Linked DNA regions of Homo sapiens. The protein of the gene in region 1 purifies or fractionates together with the protein of each later gene. This does not show direct contact. Each region holds a gene or a part of one and is shown in the gene's direction. Other genes may lie near its edges. The genes, in order: REV1, CDC27 and WRNIP1.

The links.
Region 2: the proteins of REV1 (region 1) and CDC27 purify together in Homo sapiens (affinity purification with western blotting, with the first as the bait; one study listed by BioGRID). This does not show direct contact.
Region 3: the proteins of REV1 (region 1) and WRNIP1 purify together in Homo sapiens (affinity purification with western blotting, with the first as the bait; one study listed by BioGRID). This does not show direct contact.

Annotation. Positions count from the first base shown.
Region 1 is NC_000002.12:99,402,882-99,406,535, reverse strand, and holds part of REV1 (DNA repair protein REV1), read left to right. Parts: intron 1-45; coding exon 46-211; intron 212-429; coding exon 430-626; intron 627-1,858; coding exon 1,859-2,092; intron 2,093-2,720; coding exon 2,721-2,841; intron 2,842-3,429; coding exon 3,430-3,647; intron 3,648-3,654. UniProt on the Homo sapiens protein: Deoxycytidyl transferase involved in DNA repair. Transfers a dCMP residue from dCTP to the 3'-end of a DNA primer in a template-dependent reaction.
Region 2 is NC_000017.11:47,137,181-47,140,834, reverse strand, and holds part of CDC27 (cell division cycle protein 27 homolog), read left to right. Parts: intron 1-1,943; coding exon 1,944-2,096; intron 2,097-3,474; coding exon 3,475-3,654. UniProt on the Homo sapiens protein: Component of the anaphase promoting complex/cyclosome (APC/C), a cell cycle-regulated E3 ubiquitin ligase that controls progression through mitosis and the G1 phase of the cell cycle.
Region 3 is NC_000006.12:2,768,346-2,771,999, forward strand, and holds part of WRNIP1 (ATPase WRNIP1), read left to right. Parts: intron 1-345; coding exon 346-537; intron 538-1,712; coding exon of another isoform or gene 1,713-1,768; exon of another isoform or gene 1,769-1,774; coding exon 1,775-2,016; exon of another isoform or gene 2,017-2,031; intron 2,032-3,654. UniProt on the Homo sapiens protein: Functions as a modulator of initiation or reinitiation events during DNA polymerase delta-mediated DNA synthesis. In the presence of ATP, stimulation of DNA polymerase delta-mediated DNA synthesis is decreased.

The DNA of each region.
Region 1 (3,654 bases):
TCACTTTAGTTTTCCTAGAAGCATACTCTTTATTCTGGGTTCTAGGTTGGGATTCACGTGAATCAGTTGGTTCCAACTAATCTGAACCCTTCCACATGTCCCAGTCGCCCATCAGTTCAGTCAAGCCACTTTCCTAGTGGGTCATACTCTGTCCGTGATGTCTTCCAAGTTCAGAAAGCTAAGAAATCCACCGAAGAGGAGCACAAAGAAGGTTGGTGGTCATCAATGTGGTTCTTTTTTAGGTGCTGCTTATGTCCTTGGAAAGACGGCAGTTGGTTTTAAAATTGACACAGCTTTATGTGATTTTAAAAATTTATATTCTTCATTATGATGAATCAGTAATAAAGTTTTTTTATTTGTAATGGACAGAGGATTAAAGGCCCTGCCCGATGATCTGAAGAGGCTATTTTATATATTTTCTTTTTGTAGTATTTCGGGCTGCTGTGGATCTGGAAATATCATCTGCTTCTAGAACTTGCACTTTCTTGCCACCTTTTCCTGCACATCTGCCGACCAGTCCTGATACTAACAAGGCTGAGTCTTCAGGGAAATGGAATGGTCTACATACTCCTGTCAGTGTGCAGTCGAGACTTAACCTGAGTATAGAGGTCCCGTCACCTTCCCAGGTACATTTTTGTAGTCCTAAATATAAGTACATTTTATACTCCTAAATATAAATACAAAAATACAAGTTTACAAATGAAAATGGCATTTTTATTTCTTCATCCGTTTAACCAAGAAAGGGAGAACGGGCCACTTGTTTGGGTAGATCATGATGTTGGATTCTAAATAAGCAATATTTGGGTTGAGTGAAAGTGCTTTTGCAAAGATTTGCCACTCTTGCAAGTTGTAAAGCATAGCTGAAAGGCAGTCCTCCTGTGGACTGCCATTGTCTGTGACAGTGGTCATCATGCAGACTTACTGTATTCAGCAAGGCAGCTTTGGTGATTAGTGGTGAAGTAGAGGCCTTATGTCGAAGGGTTTTTGCAGTATTTGCAAACAGGTCTCTGGAGATTTGGATGGTTTAATTCAGCGTGTGTGGGCTGTACATGTGATATACTGCTGGTCCTTGAAAGTAAGGTAGCACCTTAAGCTATATTGGGCAAGTTTATTTGTGCCTCTGCTCCCCCTGCATGGAAGGAGGCGGAAGGAGATGTTAAATACTGGCTGCAAAACTAGGGGAAAGGGCAATGCTGATATGCTTGTATGGCGACAGATACCCACAATTAGTTACTCCTGGCAAGATAAGATTGGTCCACCCAGTTGATGGGATTGCATGTTTCCAAAGGGCCAGATGTGGATGCACAGGTAGGCCCTGGCCAAAGGAACAGTGGATTCTGTCCTGTAAGTTAGAGAAAATTCAGCTTCTAGAAACCCTTTCTTCCAGTGTGCTGCTCTCAGAGTAGAATTATTTGTATTTTTGGGCAGTCTCTCATCTGAAAGGTGAACTTTTGACCCAGGACTGTTACCTGTCCAGAATTTTAACATGTGCCTCAGGCCTTCACCCCTCCCTGGGGTGGGATCTAATTTGAGCTTCACCAAGGCTATTCATATCTGTTGGCCCCAATTGCAGGACATTCTGTGAGTATATTTGGACTTACCTGGTCATGTGATAGTGGCTGGTAGTATATATACACTTCTTTCCAGACTACACATAGTACTTCAGGCTTCAATGACAAAAGGCCAAGACGTTCCAAAAATGTGCTGATTTGGAGGTGGCTTTCCTAGCTTGATGGTCTGTACCTTACATTGATTATCCACAGTATTCAAATTGAAATTTAAAGTGGCGTGTTAACTCCCAAACACCTCATCTCTGAGCATGCTTTAACTTCCTACTCATATGTTTGGCATTTTATAGCTGGATCAGTCTGTTTTAGAAGCACTTCCACCTGATCTCCGGGAACAAGTAGAGCAAGTCTGTGCTGTCCAGCAAGCAGAGTCACATGGCGACAAAAAGAAAGAACCAGTAAATGGCTGTAATACAGGAATTTTGCCACAACCAGTTGGGACAGTCTTGTTGCAAATACCAGAACCTCAAGAATCGAACAGTGACGCAGGAATAAATTTAATAGCCCTTCCAGCATTTTCACAGGTAAGTTAAATATGGGAACCCTCTGCTGTAGTTTCAATATTCTCACCCCCCTGCTCCAACTTAGGACCTGTCTCACTTCCCTTTCTCCTCTGTATCTGACACCACATCCACTGGGGAGGGGAGGGGAGGGGAGGGGAGAGTGGGCTTGTCTCCATCTCCTGCATCTGCAGGATGTAGACACAGAGCAGCCTCCCGCTGAAGCAGCAGGGAAGAGACGGGGGAGGGCATGCTAAGACAGAAACACACTGATCTGGGGCAAACACATCAATGGCCACACTTGAATACAACAGAGCGGAGATGTATAATCCTGCATGGGGGACAGTAACAACCTGAGTCCCTGTTTCAATGTTTTGCTTCCCATTTTCTACTAGTGCATTTTGCCCAGGTTCTGCTGTTGTAGTGGGTTTCTTTAAGTTAGTACTCTTAATTCCTTATTCTTGCTCTTAATTCCTTATTCTTGCTCTAACCATTTTGAAGATTTAATCAGCTTTGATATTGGGGAACTGTTAAGAATTCGTACAGATCAGAAAAGTGAGATTTGAAAACAAAGTCTGTTTTGTGAAAAAGAGAAACCAGCTACCATCTACAATTAGCTCAGGTTTGACTTTGACCTCGTCTTTTCCACTAGGTGGACCCTGAGGTATTTGCTGCCCTTCCTGCTGAACTTCAGAGGGAGCTGAAAGCAGCGTATGATCAAAGACAAAGGCAGGGCGAGAACAGCACTCACCAGCAGTCAGCCAGCGCATCTGGTGAGCCTTGGAAGTGGCATGTAACAAAAATGAAGACAAAGAGTAATGGAGTCACTGTTGTCTAATTATTGCAGTATATAATGGGCAAAGTCTAAGCTGTTGCATTAAGAGCTCTTCATATTGGGATAATATCTGAAGTATACAGTATGAGTAAATATCATCATATTTCTAGTTGGATTTGTGTCTGTACTTTCAGGATTTAAACACACCACTTTTTACTTTTTAAAAAGTTGGAATAGGACATTACCACAAATGTCTTAAATACTTGTTCAGCTAGTTGTCCTTTGAGATGAATACATTAAAGGATGTTGGTTCAAAATGCATCACAAACATCAAACCCACATTTAGTACTACCCATCATAGATGAGCAACATGCCAAAGGTCAAATTAGTAAGTGGCAAAGCAAAGAGAGAATTGGAGAGCCTGTACTTTGGGCCATTGCCATTCACTGCCTCTCACTTGGGGCAGGAGGGGAGGTGTAGGCTAGGGAGCCTGTTGTATTTGGGAGGAGAAAAGAGAACCCAATACTGTCATCCAGACTATCCATACTATCATTTTGTTGAGGATCTTATATCCATCTGCTCTTAGTGCCAAAGAATCCTTTACTTCATCTAAAGGCAGCAGTGAAAGAAAAGAAAAGAAACAAGAAGAAAAAAACCATTGGTTCACCAAAAAGGATTCAGAGTCCTTTGAATAACAAGCTGCTTAACAGTCCTGCAAAAACTCTGCCAGGGGCCTGTGGCAGTCCCCAGAAGTTAATTGATGGGTTTCTAAAACATGAAGGACCTCCTGCAGAGAAACCCCTGGTAATTC
Region 2 (3,654 bases), on another chromosome or scaffold:
ATATAATTTAATTTTGAATAGTACAGAACAGAGAGTTGAAGACAGAAAGTCTTATTCATTGCTACAAAACCCATGTTTCGATTATGGTCCTTTACTGGTATGTAGCATATACACAGACAGGCAAGAGCTGTGTTCGGAAAAGCCATTTAAAAAATTATTTCTAATTTATTGTTTCACAGCTACTTTAACATAAATGAATTTTATTGTTTCCCCTAGTTATAGTGGTGACCCAAATATTTAATTAAAGAAAGCCTCTGTTTCAACTTAATTTCTGAGTTTTTTTCCCATTTTTCTTTTTGTCTATGCCATAATCATTTTTCAGAGGAAGCAACAGATTCTGAAAACTTTGAAACCAAAAGGTACCTACCTATATTTGGCTGGTAGGTCTTTTATCTTGTTACCATGCCTGAATGAAAAACTTGGCCAGGTGTGGTGGCTCATGCCTATAATACCAGCACTTTGGGAGGCCAAGGAAGGGGGATCACTTGAGCTCAGGAGTTGGAGACCAACCTGGCCAATGTGGTGAGACCCTGTCTCTACAAAAAAATGAAAAAATTAGCTGGGTGTGGTGGCACTCACCTGTGGTCCCAGCTACTTGGGAGGCTGAAGTGGAAGGATCACTTGAGCCCTGCAGGTCAAGGCTGCACACTTACCTTTATAACTTTTAAGAGATTGCAAGGAAGTTACAAATCGTTAAGCTATTCCTATATATCATATGACCACTTCTTGGAATTAAGCACTCAGTTTTAAAATGCTCTTATTTTCTGTCATACTCATTTCATTAAGAATAGTCCAGATATTCCTTATTATAAACTAAACTGTGAAAATTTCTTTTCCTTTCTTTTTTTTTTTATTACCTAGACCTTTTCTGGCAGCTGAGAATTTTGAACTTGGTAAATTGATAAACTAGGAAACTGATTTTATATAACCTAAATCCTCAAACTTTAGAGGGAGAGAAACACAGTTCTGGGAGCTGTGAATGTGATGAGGAAAAAAATTGATGAGGCAGCTGAGGAGAGACCCTGAAGTCAAGAGAGTGCTGCAAAGGAAAGGATAATTAATAGGTAGGGCCTATGATTCCTAGCAGACACAATATTGGTGTGTATATTCAGGGCTCAATAGGATTTATAACCATAGGATTGATAGCCAGCTTAACCTGTTTCTTCCCTCTAAATTTTCTGGCACAACCTCTCGGTAAAAATTGTTCAAAAATAGATTTTATGTTACAGAAATCATTCTTCCATCATCTTTCCTAAAAGAGTTATTCTGGCCAGGTGTGGTGGCTCATGCCTGTAATCCCAGCACTTTGGGAGGCCGAGGCGGGTGGATCACAAGGTCAGGAGATCGAGACCATCCTGGCTAACATGGTGAAACCCTGTCTCTACTAAAAAATACAAAAAATTAGCCAGGTGTGGTGGCAGGCGCCTGTAGTCCCAGCTGCTTGGGAGGCTGAGGCAGGAGAAGGGCGTGAACTCGGGAGGCGGAGCTTGCAGTGAGCCGAGATTGCGCCACTGCACTCCAGCCTGGGCGACAGAGTGAGACTCCATCTCAAAAAAAAAAAAAAAAAAGAGTTATTCTGTAATGCCATTATTAAAACTTGGAAATGAGGTTTTTGAGAAGGAAATATTGACTTTTCTTTTGAATTGTAGCTTTGTATAGATTTCTCTTCGGTCTTTTTGGTAGAAACTCAAATTTCCTTTTCAGAGTTCATGTTCTTACCATGGCTTGTATATAAATACTAGGTTGACTGTCAATATGGTTACATCACTATTTGACCTGCCATAGTAGATTGCTGAATTTGTCCTTGTGTTAATACTCATTCACATAAAAACCATAATACAAGGCAGCATTTAGATCCTGTGAAGATAATGACCAGGGCTTTCCCTGTGTATATATATAAATTGTATCAACTTGTTTTCTCTTACTAGTTTTTTTTATTTCAGGCTGAAAGAATATTCTCAGAGGTTAGAAGGATTGAGAATTATAGAGTTGAAGGCATGGAGATCTACTCTACAACACTTTGGCATCTTCAAAAAGATGTTGCTCTTTCAGTTCTGTCAAAAGACTTAACAGACATGGATAAAAATTCGCCAGAGGTATGTTAACCAAAATACTTTGCTTATATAGTTACCTTTTTGATCACCCTCAACAGATAGAGATGAACCAAGCAATTCAAACACTATTTAGTGTCACCCACGCTTATTTCTTTTTTTTCCTCTCTCTCTAGTCAGGGACTCAGAGAGGAAGAGAAAGTCCTAGAATGTGTGGTGCAGATTCACAAATAGAAAAATCACAAAGCAGCTATTTCATTCAGGATTTATCGAGATTTGACTACGTTAAATTTGCTGTTGTCACCAAGATTAGGGTTCGTTGAGCAGAAGTTACATAGATTGAAAAAATTAATAATTTTAAATTAAAATAAATTAGTATTGTCATTGTAAGACATAGGTGCAATTAATGTACATGCTCTAATCTTGTAAGATTGTATTTCATTGCATCTCAAAAATATTTAATGATACTTTTGTAACATATCTAAGCTTAGAATTAAACACAGTCAACTCCCATTATTTGCGGTAATTCTGTAGTCAACATGAACACTGAATTAGTGCTACTGAACCAATGTTCCTGGGAGTGATGGAGAGTTTGAAACAGAGATAGATTGTGGATTATAATCTTGAATCCTAAAAATAACTCATCCTGGTAGATCCTATTTTCTTTACAAAAGAGAGAATGCTGCTGGGTGTGGTGGCTCACACCTATAATCCCAGCACTTCGGGAGGCTGAGGCAGGCGGATTCCTTGAGCTCAGGAGTTCCAAGACCAGCCTCGGCAACATGGCAAAACCCTTCTCCACAAAAAATACAAAAATTAGCCAGGTATGGTGGCTGGCATCTGTGGTCCCAGCTGCTCGGGAGGCTGAGACAGGAGGATCACTTGAGCCTAGGTGGCGGAGGTTGCATTGAGCCAAGATCACACCACTGCCCTCCAGCCCGGACAACAGAACAAGACCAGATCTCAAAAAAAAAAAAAGAGAGAGAATGAGGTTCAGAGGTGACTTGCCTGAAGCCATCCTACTTAAAAGTGCCAGCAGTGGGATTCAAATTCTGTCCAACTGTCCCCAGAGCCAAAGCTTCTTGCACTACACTAAACTAGCCCACAGAGTTTCTGTCCCTGGTCATCTCTGCATGAGAGCTAAAACAAGAAGGTAGAGTCACATTATTCAACCTCAAATGAGAACATACCTTTTGATGACTATGAAAGCACTGCAAGTATTGATTTTGGTTTTACAAATAAATTTTAGCAATCAGACAAATTCACAAATATGGAATCTGTGAATAATTAGAATTGAGTATCTACTGAAGCTCCTCCATTTTTGTCTTTCTGTTCTAAGTTGAGGCTTGATTTTAGTCATAGATTTGGTTTTAGAAAAAGTAAAATTTTAATTCTGTTTGGTTTTTGTTCCCATTTTTTTAAGGCCTGGTGTGCTGCAGGGAACTGTTTCAGTCTGCAACGGGAACATGATATTGCAATTAAATTCTTCCAGAGAGCTATCCAAGTTGATCCAAATTACGCTTATGCCTATACTCTATTAGGGCATGAGTTTGTCTTAACTGAAGAATTGGACAAAGCATTAGCTTGTTTTCGAAATGCTATC
Region 3 (3,654 bases), on another chromosome or scaffold:
GAGGTCACAGCTGTCACTCTGCTAAATCAAGACAGCCGTTCTTTACTGGGATTCCAAAGATCTTAAAGAGTCACCCAAAAAGGAATCAAAGGTGGTTAGGGACAGAGGAGAAAAGGTCAGGATTAGCCTAAGGTTTAGCTACTTTCCTGTTTTATTTATAATATTTTTGTTGTTGTTGTTTTTAAATGTCCTGTGGTATTTTTGATTGTTTCTGTGCTGCTCAGCATTCTTCCGAGGTCAAGTTGCTTTTGGTAAATAGTGATGCTGCGTGTGGTGGTTCCCATGGGTGCTGGTCTCTCTGTGTCTTACCAGCTTTTCAAACTCCATGTATGTCATCTTTTCTAGACCACTCTGGCTCACATCATAGCCAGCAACAGCAAGAAACATAGCATAAGGTTTGTGACATTATCTGCAACAAATGCCAAGACAAATGATGTGCGAGATGTCATAAAACAAGCTCAAAATGAAAAGAGCTTTTTCAAAAGGAAAACCATCCTTTTTATTGATGAGATTCATCGGTTCAATAAATCTCAGCAGGTATATTAACTTCCTTCTACCTTTTGGTCGTTGTGAACATCAAACAATATAAAGTGTGTGAGATCACTATACAAACGCTAGAGACTTACGAGCTTTGTTTACAAAGAAGCGTAGGCTTGTGAACCCATCTCCTTCAAGCCTATTTCTCCATACATTTCTTAGTGTTTTTTGATAACAAGAAAATGCTTTCTCTATCTGATAAATGAAATGGTTGGCATATCCCTGAGCTATACGTATCAGAAAAGCACCTTTGAATCAAATTTCCAGTTTTAGGAATTTTTAATCTAAATACTAGGAGTCATTGTGAACAGTAAAATAATGATTTTAAGGTCATTATTTTAATGGGTTTTTAAAAATTACTTTAACAGTATTTTTATTTTGAAAATTAAACAATCGGTATTTTCTGTAACTCCAGGCTCTGTCTTCAAGGTGAATGTTGGAAGAGCTAATGATTACTGTTTATTTAAATGGGTTTCTGAAATAAAAGGACACAAGCTATTTTTATAAACAAAGCCACTTAGGGATTTAAAAAAAAATAAACATTAAAATTTTATTGGGCTGAGATCTGAGAGCTATACTCTAAATAAAAAAAAATTAAATTTTTAGGCATAACTTTAAAAAATTTTTTTTTGTAACTTTTTAATCATACATAGAATATTTCACAAAACTCTACTGAGCCTTTTTTGAACCTTTTTGAATAAAAAGACCCTTTTAAAGTTCTGACGAGGCGTTAGCATTCTAGGTTTCATATTGGACCACTGACTCATCTTAGTATTTTTTCCCCATAAAACAGCATAATAGGAATAATAATAATATGATTGAGTGCTTGCTGTGGAAGAAGATTCTGGAAGTGTTAATGTTTTTGTGTGTTCTTGTCTATAAATAAATAGCTGTTACATATAAGCTATGTGCCAGTTCAGCCTTTGGTAGAAGATGGTTTTCTGAGTAAAGAAATCATTTATGTTGAAACTAAGCTAGAATTCTACTTAAAGCTATTAGTCTACCAGCAAGAGATCAGGCTTGGACGGGCATTCCAGAAGATGTGTTTCAGACTTAAAAGCAAGAGTTGTACTCCCCCAAATATTGCATCTATATTCAGTGAATATAAGGCTGCTGCTATTCCTGAACTCGAAAGATAAAAATGAGGAAAAGGAAGGAAGGGATAGCCAACTTACATAGGATTCTGCAGGTGGCTGTTGACTGGAATCACTTTTTTCTGTTTTCCTCCCATGATTAGGACACTTTCCTTCCTCACGTGGAATGTGGGACGATCACTCTGATTGGGGCAACCACTGAAAACCCTTCCTTCCAGGTCAACGCTGCTCTTCTGAGCCGCTGTCGAGTGATTGTTCTTGAGAAGCTTCCAGTAGAGGCAATGGTGACTATTTTAATGCGAGCGATCAACTCCCTGGGAATCCACGTCCTAGACTCTAGCCGTCCCACTGACCCTCTGAGCCACAGCAGCAACAGCAGCTCAGAGTAAGTTGACAGTGTGCAGCGTCCTGGGGGCACACACCTCCCAGAGAGTCTCCTGGCAGGGGGCCAGAAAGGGCCGGGCGTCAGTGAGGAGAGGGTGGGGACAGAGAAGAAATGTTGATCCGCCCGTAATGAAAATAAAAGAGGAGGGAAATGTTCGATTATACCTAACAAAGTTATCCCTGCACACTTGAAGATGCATTTTCCAGCCTCTAATATGTGTTTCTATAATTCTTCAAGCTTTAACTTTGCTTTGTTGTTTTGGTTCTTGGGTGTTTGCTTTTGTGCTTAGGCTTCTATGGGAAGCCTTATTGATGATTTGAAAGGCTTTATGTCCCTCATTGAATAGAACAAATAGATAGATAAATACTTTCTAGACTTACCATACAACTCTTTTGAGCATTGTACTCATGTTTCAATTTCTTTTTAACCTGCAGTTTAGCATTTTGTTAAAAAAAAAAAATCAAGTAAAAATTAACTTGTAACCTTAAAATTATGTAATCCTTTTTGTGTAGTTGAAACTCAGTTTCATGAAAGTAAAGGAATGTTAACTGAATATGACATTATAGGCTGTCCCTATCCTTTTAGTGACCTATTTCTGCATCATGAGTACCACATGAGCTCGTTAATGCACCAAGTGTATATCATAGATAATTTGATTTCTTGGGTCAGGGGTTTTCCTTTTTTTTAATATTAGAACATATTCTTCAGATGGTATTTGTTCATACGTTGGCTGAAATACTGCCATGGAACATAATCTGGTGTGATGAGAGGCTATTGCCCACCTCCTCCTGCTGTGGACTCTGCAGCTGCTCGTGCCTGCCCTGAGGCCAAGTTCTGGAGCCACTTTTCTGTGAGGATTAAAGTACAAGGCATAGTTTAGGCTCAGGGTTTAGGTTTCACCAGGCTCTCCCTATGTGTCTGGCCCCATTTGCTCCTGTCTGAGATGGAGGGAGAATTCTGCTGTGTCTAATGAAAGCATTGAAACATTTGGCCCGTGGACCACTGGGTAGGACAGAGTGGCCTTGTTTTGGAATACCGTTGTGATGGGGATAGCCATTACATCTGTGGCCACAAGCAGTGTGTGGAACCTGTGGTATCAGCCACATGGACTCATACTCAGAAGTGCTTTATGTGGTGGGCATTTGTCAGAGCCTAAGGGGGCTGCCAGCTCCTCATATGTAGTACAGGTTGAGTATCCCAAATCTGAAATCCAAAATGCTCCCAAATCTAAAGCTTTTTGAGCACCTTCATGATGCTGTGAAAGGAAATGCTTATTGGAGCACTTCAGATTTCTGGATTTTGGGTGCTCATCTGGTAAGTATATAATGCAAATATTCTAAAATCAAAAAAATAGGAAATTCAGACCACTTCTGGTCCCAGGCACTTCAGATGTGGGATACTCATGTGTAGGTTTCCCGTAACAGAATTCTCATTACAGACGCATAGAACCACATGGTAAAGACAAATTGAAAGAAAAGGGGGGAAATCCTAACATGTTTCATGTTTCTGTGTGTTCTTTGCTCTGTGTACTGGTTATCGTAATGTATCTGCAACTTAATATTCTGCATGTGTACTTGTCTGGGGTGATTTTTATTGATTTCATGTCATCAGTTCATGAAATAGAACATGAAATCAATA